Regions from separate parts of the Homo sapiens genome. Here region 1 is linked to region 2. The links come from fine-mapping of genetic effects on gene expression. A gene starts in region 2. The other region holds a variant in brackets. All regions are shown on one strand. Distances are from middle to middle.

Evidence for each region. PIP is the estimated chance that this variant, and not a neighbour inherited with it, causes the effect. A credible set is the group of variants that fine-mapping cannot tell apart.
Region 1: its variant is the best candidate, but not a certain one, in a credible set for the expression of NPFFR1 in tibial nerve (GTEx, PIP 0.57).

What each region holds. Positions count from the first base shown.
Region 1 is chr10:70,252,570-70,257,893 of GRCh38, reverse strand. It overlaps NPFFR1 (neuropeptide FF receptor 1), which reads left to right. Exons shown (of 4, transcript NM_022146.5): 4 at 2,067-5,324. The coding sequence ends at 2,937. Among named protein-coding and RNA genes, the nearest start is that of PPA1, 22 kb to the right of the region's middle. The variant C/A (reference allele first, on the strand shown) is at 1,885.
Region 2 is chr10:70,281,283-70,286,656 of GRCh38, reverse strand. It overlaps NPFFR1 (neuropeptide FF receptor 1), which reads left to right and starts at 2,653. Exons shown (of 4, transcript NM_022146.5): 1 at 2,653-2,987. The coding sequence starts at 2,981. RefSeq lists an enhancer at 2,945-3,446.

The sequences.
Region 1 (5,324 bases), 29 kb after region 2:
TAAGCCAGATTTATGTTTCTCTCCACCCAAACATCTCAGTGGAGTAAAGAATAACAAGGCAGCACTGCTGCAAACATGTCTCACCTCCCACCATAGGGTGGTTTTTCTCTCATCTCAGAACTGAACAAATGTACAATAGGGTTTTATACTGAGACATTCAGTTCCCAGGGGCAGGCAGGAGACAGTGGCCTTCCTCTATCTCAACTGCAAGAGGCTTTCCTCTTTTACTAATCCACCTCAGCACAGACCCTTTACAGGTGTTGGGCTGGGGGACGGTCAGGTCTTTCTCATCCCATGAGGCCATATTTCAGACTATCATATGGGGAGAAACTTTGGACAATACCCTGCTTTCAAGGGCAGAGGTCCCCGCGGCTTTCCGCAGTGCATTGTGCCCCTAGTTTATTGACACTAGAGAATGGCGATGACTTTTACCAAGTATACTGTTTGTAAACATTTTGTTAACAAGGCATGTCCTGCACAGCCCTAGATCCCTTAAACCTTGATTTCATACAACACATGTTTTTGTGAGCTCCAGGTTGGGTCAAAATGGCTGGGGCAAAGTGGCTGGGGCAAAGCTACAAATTAACAACATCTCAGCAAAGCAATTGTTTAAAGTACAAGTCTTTTTCAAAATGGAGTCTCTTATGTCTTCCCTTTCTACACAGACACAATAACAGTCTGATTTCTCTTTCTTTTCCCTACACTCCTGGACTCAAGTGATTATCCTGCCTCAGCCTCCTGTGTAGCTGGAAGAATAGGCAAGCATCCCCTCATCTGGTTAATTTTTTTGGTAGAGATGGGGTTTCACCATGTTTCCCAGGCTGGTCTCCAACTCCTGGGTTCAAGTGATCCTCCTGCCTTGGCCTCCCAAAGTGCTGGGATTATAAGCATGAACCATGGCACCTGACCCCAGGAGCTTTAAAAACAAAAACAGCACATAACAAATAATGCTAAAACCACTTTCTAGACTAATTAGGTTGGAATCCTTGGCCTGAAAAAATAGGCACGGGTTTTGTCTTTGTTGTTGAAATGCTTCAGGAGAGTCTCATGCACATGGAGGGTTTACAGCTACTGGTTTATATGGCATATGAAGCAAGACAAATCTGGGTTCAAGACTGGTCCTTGCAACTTGCTATGTGAACTTGAGCCAACTGCTTAACACTCGAGTCCCAGTTTCCTTGTCTGTAAATCAACAGTGTAGTAACTATCTTAAAGGCCTCACCTTTAAAAAATAATAAAGGGTGTAATAACAGATGCTGAGTTGTCCTCATGAGGAAATAAATGGTGCAGACTTGTCCTTGCATTGTAGAGATACTGATACTATGGCCAAGATGACATAGGGACAGCCTGACATGTAGGCTCTACATCTGACCTCCTGAGGTTTTCTGGAGAATCCATAAACAGAAACTGTGTTATTTGACGCACCTAATCGTCCTTGTCGAGGACAGACTGCGCACTCTGATCGCTCTGCTAGCTGCCAGCTAATCAGTTGACCCCCAAAAGTACACAAATGGCCCCGCAAGGAGGCTCATATCTATAATCCCAGAAATTCGGGAGGCCGAGGCCGGAGGATAGCTTGAGCCCAAGACTTTGAGACTAGCCTGGGCAACACAGTGAGACCTCATCTCTCCAAAAATTGAAAGAAATTAGCCGGCGAGGTGGCAGCGCATTCCTGTGGTTCCAGCTACTCAGGAGGCTGAGGTGGGAGGAGAGGATCACTTGAGCCCGGGAGGTGGAGACTGCAGGGAGCCGTAATCGCGCCACTGCACTCCAGACTGGGCGACAGAAGGAGGCCCTGTCTCAGGAAAAAAAAAAAAAAAAGGAGAAAAGTGCAAAAGTGCACACAGGATTCATTGTTCCCACACGATCTGCGGTTTCCTCCTC[C/A]CTTCTCATAAATCCTGTAGCTGCCTTTGTTCTTTGACTACTCAGCCAATTCAGGTCTGAGCTGTTCTTCGACGCCGCCCTAGATGCGATGATGAAGGTCAGGTGCCCGCATCCCACCCACCGTCCCCTCGCAGGGGCCCTAGGACCCACCCAGATCCCGCCTGTCTCTCTCCCCGCGGCAGGTTCCGCTGCATCGTGCACCCTTTCCGCGAGAAGCTGACCCTGCGGAAGGCGCTCGTCACCATCGCCGTCATCTGGGCCCTGGCGCTGCTCATCATGTGTCCCTCGGCCGTCACGCTGACCGTCACCCGTGAGGAGCACCACTTCATGGTGGACGCCCGCAACCGCTCCTACCCGCTCTACTCCTGCTGGGAGGCCTGGCCCGAGAAGGGCATGCGCAGGGTCTACACCACTGTGCTCTTCTCGCACATCTACCTGGCGCCGCTGGCGCTCATCGTGGTCATGTACGCCCGCATCGCGCGCAAGCTCTGCCAGGCCCCGGGCCCGGCCCCCGGGGGCGAGGAGGCTGCGGACCCGCGAGCATCGCGGCGCAGAGCGCGCGTGGTGCACATGCTGGTCATGGTGGCGCTGTTCTTCACGCTGTCCTGGCTGCCGCTCTGGGCGCTGCTGCTGCTCATCGACTACGGGCAGCTCAGCGCGCCGCAGCTGCACCTGGTCACCGTCTACGCCTTCCCCTTCGCGCACTGGCTGGCCTTCTTCAACAGCAGCGCCAACCCCATCATCTACGGCTACTTCAACGAGAACTTCCGCCGCGGCTTCCAGGCCGCCTTCCGCGCCCGCCTCTGCCCGCGCCCGTCGGGGAGCCACAAGGAGGCCTACTCCGAGCGGCCCGGCGGGCTTCTGCACAGGCGGGTCTTCGTGGTGGTGCGGCCCAGCGACTCCGGGCTGCCCTCTGAGTCGGGCCCTAGCAGTGGGGCCCCCAGGCCCGGCCGCCTCCCGCTGCGGAATGGGCGGGTGGCTCACCACGGCTTGCCCAGGGAAGGGCCTGGCTGCTCCCACCTGCCCCTCACCATTCCAGCCTGGGATATCTGAGGGGGTCCAGGGAGGGCGGGACGCTGCCTCAGGGCCCCGATTGGACACGAGATACATGCAGGCGATAGCGGCCTGGTGTGGTTAGGTGAGGATGCGTGGTCCCTCCCTCTCCAGAGCCAGGCAGTGGTGGGCAGCTGCTGGTGATGTCTTCTCTGCTGCCTTCACCCTCAGTAGAGGCAAATGCGGGGGACGGGAAGGAACCAACTTGCCCTGTGTGGTGGGCTTGACAAACATCATCTCACTGAATTGTCACAACGCTTTGGAGATAGGTTGTCTTCTCTTCCTTCTACAGATGCAAAAACTGAGGCCTGGAGAGATGTGACTCACCCAAGTTTCTCAGGTGGAAATGGCATGTGAAGCTATCTGACTCCAATACCTGTGTGGTTTTTATCATCTCCAGCTGGCTCCAAGAGGGCCCGGTAAGGTAGAACACTGTGAACTGAGTAAGTCCTAATTAGGCAGCTAGGAAGAAGCGAAAAGCAAAGCCGGCCTGTCCCTTGATGCTTTGTGTCCATGTGAGGGAGTCCCTCATGTTCCGTTACTGAAGCCACTCCCCTTGATCCTTTTCTAGAAGAACACGGTGTGCCCCCGCTGCCGGCTCTAATGTGTTGGTTTGTCTTGTTTGTTCCAAGAAGTTCCAAGAAGCCATTGTCCTCAGAGGACGGCAGCTTCAGAACGAGCCTTGGGGAGGCTGCCTCAGTTGCAGGGCACTCTAGGTCTTGCCCTCTGGGTCTGAGCTTAGAGAACAGAGGAGGGACTCCCAGACCAAGGCAAGAACTTACAATGCCACAGACATTGTAATGCTGCAGGGCCACAGGAGGTGTCCTTTTACGTACTCATAGACAACGAGGAAGGGGAAGCACGGTATGCATTTTCCACATTGGGAAACACATCTGCTCACTGGGGCTGCAGGTACAAAGCCTTGCCCAAGGTCTCTCTCCTCCCTGCTTCCTGGGAGGGAGAAGTTGGTCAACTGAAGCTGCAGCCGGAGTGCCATTTGGAGACTCCTGAAGGACACACACTAAACTCTTCCCCAGCACAAATGACTTGTGTACTCTAAGGAGGTACCAGGAGAGCCCTGTTTACTCTGGCTTTCCCCCAACACCCCTGCATCAACTTGAAGAAATGTGGCTTCTTTCCAGGAGACGGGAGCACATGGGATTGCCTTGGAGGGTCCTTTCACAGGCCCCTTCATCTTGCACTTAAATGGACATTTCCCCCCACCTCTGTAGAAAACACGGTGTTGCTAGAAATTTAGTAAACAAAAAAGAAACGTTTCCAGGGGTCGGGGCTCTGAGGCTCTGTTCCCTTAACCGACACACAGTGACTGTTTACTGTTTGCTCCACTCTAAGTTCCAGGTTTAGGGGCAGAAGAAAATTCCTAAGCAGTTGTACAATACATTCTCCAAGCATGTCCCCAGACACCGTCTCATTTAATCCATAGTAATGAGGTTGAAGGAGATTGAATGTTATTGTCATTTCACAAAGTGACTGAAGCTCAAAGGGGCCAAGTTTCCAGGGCCACAGAGGGGCAGGATTTAGATTAAAATTTGTCTTCTGATTGTTCTTCCCACCCCACATGCTGCCTTTCAAGGAAGGTGGGGATGACGGGAGAGCTGGTAATTTCCCCAAAGGCTTTTTTGCCTAACAGTGAACCAGAATGCCCACTCCTGGTGCCCAAGCTCTTGGTCTGGGAAAGAAATCTATTGTGTTTACTCTCGTAATGTCCAGCCTGAGTTGTTCTTGCCCTGGTGCTGAGCAGGCTGCCAAGAGCCATCATGACCTTGTCCTGGTTCTGGGGGTGATGGATGAGGGTCTGAGAGAGAGTATGCCCTCCTGCCCCTCAGTGGTATTAGCTGGTGCCATGCATTTCTGGTACTGTATCAGTGTCATGTGTCATATGGGCCAGAGAGTTCCCAGCTGGTTCTGGGCTATTTGTTGTGAAGAAGTCTGACTCCAGGCTCTAAAAGTAAGCCAGAGAAAGGGCCGTCTCAAACCCAAAATGCCTATCCCTATGGCTGGGTGGGAATTGTCTGAAGACACCACCTGGTGTCTCCTCTGGGGTGTGTTTCTCCTTTAGCATAGCCTCCCCAAGTACAAGATCAGCATTTGAGGCTGGGGGCGGGTAGGGATACCAAAGTACTCACTCAAGCCAACCTTTCCATCACAGCCCCTTTGTCTTCCCCCAAAAGATGTCATGCTTTGAAAGGTTATAACTGCCCAAAAAACTCCTTCAGCTCTCGCTGAAGGTTACAATTAACATATTTTGCTGTTATTTTTGTTTCTTCTAAAAAATCAATCAGAGGCTATACCTGCCCATTCAGATCTGAGTGATAACAGGCATGACAATGCTTTAATGAAGCAGTGAGACATTGTGGGTATGTGGG
Region 2 (5,374 bases):
TCTGGTACCACGTGGACTTGACACTATAGGAAGGTTTTAATGGTAGAAGAAAAATGTCTGTAGAAGAGGAGGGAAAAGGAAGAAAAGGCTCTATGATCTGGAACTATTCAAATAAAAAAGATGGTGGAGCAATTGACCACAAGGCGCTAGAATGATGTGGCTGCTGAGGAAAGAAGGAAGGAAAGGGAAGAAAGCGAAAAAGTGAGACTGCATTATTCAAAGTCTAGTGCCCCGGCTGGGCATGGTGGCTCAAGCCTGTAATCCCAGCACTTTGGGAGGCCATGGCAGGTGGATCACATGAGGTCAGGAGTTCAAGACCAGCCTGGCCAACATGGTGAAACCCCGTCTCTACTAAAAATACGAAAAAATTCGCTGGTTGCGGTGGTGGATGCCTGTAATCCCAGCTCCTAGGGAGGCTGAGGCAGGAGAATCACTTGAACCTGGGAGGCAGAGGTTGCAGTGAGCTGAGATTGTGCCACTACACTCCAGCCTGGGTGACAGAGTAAGACCTTATCAAAAAAAAAAAAAAAAAAAAAAAACTCTATTGCCCCTGTAATTGTAGCTCATATTTATTGAGTACCTACATGTTGTCAGGGCTTTACATATATTAACTCATTTAATTCTCATAACCCTACATGGTAGGTACTATTATCCCTATTTTGTAGATGAGAGGAAACTCAGGCACAAAGACATATAAATTTCCCAAAGCGCACCAACTCTAAATGGCAGTGCTGGGCTATACAGACTTTACAGCACAGTGCCTCAAACTCTGCATTGCTCAAGGGGGCTTAATATGACCTGACATACTTCTGGGTTTTATCAGAGGGACTTCAAGAAATGTGAGCACTTCTACAGGGAGGTGGACTCAAGATAGTGATAAGATGAATAATATTTCTTGCGTACTGTCTATATGCAAAGCACTGTTTCACATGCTTTGTATATAGTAACTGCTTTAATCTTCACAACTATAGGAGATAGGTGCCATTATTATGCCCATTTTACAGATGAAGAGACTGAGGCAAGTCACAGAAAGAAAAAAGCCCAGTGAAATTCTTGTGTTTCTCCAGTAGAACAGCAGCGTTGAAGGAGCAACTTCCCTCCCACTTGACCTCTGAAGGGCTGCCCTAGGGGAAGAGAGAGGGACATGATGGCAGAGGTACCCATTGCTGGGGATACTTCTTGCTGGGGATTAGGGTCAGGATGCCCGCTCTGGGTCAGGGTTAGACTCAGTGACCCCTAAGGACCTTCTAGCTGTGAGACTCTGCCCACTGCTCTGGACAGAGGAGGAACTAGGGAAAGAAGTGAGACTAGGAAGAATCTTGATGCCAACTGTTTCCCCAGTGTCCAGTGAGCAAACTCCTGACTCCTAAAAGAGGAAGGAATAGACCATTCACTTTCTTTCATCTGCCTAGAACATGGGATCTTTTTTTAAAAAAATAGTTGGGTACATAGTAGGTGTATATATTTATGGGGTACATGAGGTGTTTTGATACAGGCATGTAATGTGAAATAAGCACATCATGGAGAATGGGGTATCCATCCCTTCAGGCACTAATCCTTTGAGTTACAAACAATCCAATTATACTTTTTAAGCTATTTAAAAATATACAATTAAGTTATTATGGACTATAGTCACCCTATTGTGCTGTCAAACAATAGGTCTTATTCATTCTTTCTAGCTATTTTTTTGTACCCATTAACCATCCCTATCCTCCCACTACCCTTCCCTGCTTCTGGTAACCACATGCTTCTACTATGTCCATGAGTTCAACTGTTTTGATTTTTAGATCTCACAAATAAGTAAGAACATGTGACGTTTGCTTCCTGTGCCTGGCTTATTTCATTTAATATAATGATTTCCAGTTCCATCCATGTTGTTGCAAATGACTGGATCTCATTCTTTTTTATGGCTGAATAGTACTCCATTTACATATATGTACCATATTTTCTTTATCCGTTCATCTGTTGATGGACACTTAGGTTGCTTCCAAATCTTAGCTATTGTAAACAGTGCTGCAAGAAAAACACAGGAGTGCAGATAGAACCTGGGATCTTTATTCATGTGGCGAAAATTTATGGTGGTGCCTGCTGGGTGCCTGACAGGGGCTGGAGATGAGTATTCTCCAATTCAGCTCAAGGAACCATTTGTTGAGCATCTACTATGGGCTGGGCTGAAACTTTGGTATCACATTTACTCCCCTCAAAATCATTTTACAAATGCAGAAACACACTCAGGCACAGGTATTATTATAAGAAACTTTTCCAAGGGTACCACCCGGTGAATGCCTGAACTGGTTAATTTCAAAGCCGTGGTCACCTAGCAGAACTTGTCCCCATTCTCCTGGGAGAGCCGGGAGCTGGTGGGGCTCCCCCCTGCCTCCCTCCCGAAGCCCTCCTGTTTTCACAGCTACCTCTCATCCCCTTCTCAGGAAGGCCCAGAGTGCTGGACCCCAGGCTAGGGTGGGCAAGGATGAGGAGTGGGGACAGAGGCTGGCATATGAGGCACGGGAGAGAGGTGGGGAATTACGGGACGCCGCTGCCAGGGCTGCAGTGGGAGGAGGGGTGTGTCCCCTACTTCGGAGGGGCGCTCGGGCTCTGTGGAGAGAGCGCCATGCGGGAGGCGGGCCCGGGGCGCCCTCGCTCGGCGGGCACAGGTGCGCGGGTGCCATGACGACTGCGCCTCACGAGCCCCCTCCTTCCCCTGGTCGGGAGGCGAGGGGCGGCGGGCGGCTGAGCCCTGCGGGCAGCAGCGCTGCGCGGGAGCCAGTCAGCCCGAGGGGAGGGAAACCGGCCAGGGCCCGGGGCCTGGGAGCGCACGCCCCCTGCTCACCTCTGCCCGGACCGACCGGACCTGCGGAGCGCGGAGGCAGGGGCGCAGCCCGCAACCAAGTGCCCGGAGACCGTCCCTCTGCCCGCTGGCCCGAAGGGGCCCGCTGCCTCCCGCCATCGGAGACCGCCGGAGCCCGCAACTGGGGGCATCATGGAGGGTGAGTGGTCCTGGGGCTGGGGGCCAGCCGTGGGGCAGGGTACCGACTCCGGGGCATGGGGCGAAGGGAGAGGAGAGGGCCGGGCAGCTGATCACCCATGGCTGTCCAGAGCCAGACGTTGTGACACTCTGTGTGTGACAGAGACAGAGACACTGAGTGAGGGAGAGAGACCTGGGGTGCCCATGTGTTCATGGTGTGTGTGTGTGTGCGTGTGTATGTGAGACAGAAAAACAGACAGACAGAAAGAGACAGATGGAGAGAAAGACCTGGGGGTGCTCTGTATTCATGTTGTGCCTGTGTGTGTGAAAGAGAGAGAGAGAGAGAGACAGAGACAGAGACATAGAGACAGACACTGAGAGAGGGAGACAGAGACAGGCAGAGAAACACTTGGGGGTGCCTCTGTATTCATGTTGTGCTTGTGTGTGTGTGTGAGAGAGAGAGAGAGAGTGAGAGAGAGAGAGAAAGACCTGGGGTGCCTCTGTATTTGTGTTGTACATATGTGTGTGCATGTACAAGACACACACACACACACACACAAAAAGAGAGAGTCCCTGTTGTGTGTGTGCACGCACACAATCCCTGCTGTCTGAGCAGAGAATCATTTGAGACCAGGTGAGGACAGCTTGGCTATTAGCTTCAGAAGAATTGTCACCGACTTTGTCTGCTTGAAGGGGTGGGGTTGTTGGGGAGATGGGATTCTAGAGGTGATATCCTCCATGTAGAGAGAATTTCTCTCCCTAAGGAAAGGAGAGTGAACTATGGACCTTACCTTCAGGATTTTAAGGGATAGCGGACCAAGGCATAAGGCTGCTTGCTCCCACTTTACCAGAACCCTCTCTCAGCCATTGTGGACAAGGGGAACCATATTTAGGCTAAGAAACTGGAAAACCAAGGGCTCGTCCACTGTCTTGCTGGGTGTCTTTGAGATAGTGCCTAAACCTTTCTGTGCCACTGGTCACCCATCTATCGAATGGGGGAACTTAACATTCAGCTGGCTTCAGAGAGTGTCTGTGAGGATAAAATAAGATATGTTGTACAACACGCCAGTATGAGGCAGCTGTGGCAAGAGGTAATAAAACCCCAAAATTCCAATTAGTAATTGCAAACACTGCTGTTAAAAAATAAAATCAAGTTTTATAGAAAATCTTGTGAGGCTGCACTTGTAGTTTTCCAATGAGCCAGGGTATGAAAAGCACACACACAAAAGAGGCAAGAAGGAATCAATAACCCAAGAGGAATCTGGAAGATTGGCAGATCTGTAAGAATGGCGTTAGCAAAGCCCTGAAGCTCCAGTGAACAGAAGTCGGGGGAAATTGGCAAAGACAAGAGCAAAAAGCTTTCAAAGTCTAAGAATAACAAGAAGGAATCTGCTCTGGCTTAGGCTCGAGGGCAGGCAGAGCAAGATACAGGCAATTTTACTTCAAATTGTGGAATAAAGAGGATAAGGAGGAAATAGAGACCCAAGATAGTCAAGCGATAGGAAGAAGACATCAAGTTACCTACAATGAGCTCACTCATTGAAGCCCAGACATATGACATCCCAGCGACCCAGAGGTATTTACAGATATAATCATTGCTTTTGAGGAAACTACAGAGAATGAAGGAAGTGCCAGAAAACTGAAGATGGGCAAATGTCCTGATTTTCAAAAAAGGGAAATATAAATTTTTTATCTAAAAAGCCTCTACACTGCTAAGATTAGTTTTGACCTCTATTAAAATTCCAGAAGAAATGACCAAACACAGTGTACACTTAGGAGACAACAACGCACTCCCTCAGCTCAGAATTTTTTCAAATTCTGAGCTGCACACTTGCAAAGATGTGTGCCTGAGCATGTTCATCACAGTGCAAAATTGGAAACCATCCAGATAGCCATAAATTATGTAAATTAAATAAAAAATGAGACACTTCTGCAATGGCATACTATGCAGACATTAAAAACTGTGCTTAGGATTTTCTTTATTGACATGGAAATATGTTCACTACCCACTGTGAGTAATTAGAAAAAAAAACAGGTTTTTGAATGCATGTGTAGTGTGATCCCCTTTATGCAAAATTACATAGGTTTATTATTGGAAATATACATATACAAGTGTATACGCAAAGAGGTAGTCACTAACATCTTTGTTTGATTCTCCTGCTTCTGAAAGCAGACCCTAAGACAAGAGCTTGGATATAGGGAGTCTATTTGGGAGATGATGCCGGGCAGTGGAAGTGAGGGAATGAGGAGAGTGAGATGAAGAAGGGAGAAAAGGCAAGAAATGGGTGCCTTAATGAGCTGGTTTTAGCTGTGGGCAACTGGGGGGTTCTATCCTGCTGGGGACACTCTGAGAAAAGTGCAGGGTGAACCCGAGGTTTACCCCACCTAAGAGGTGGCGTTGGCTGCTTC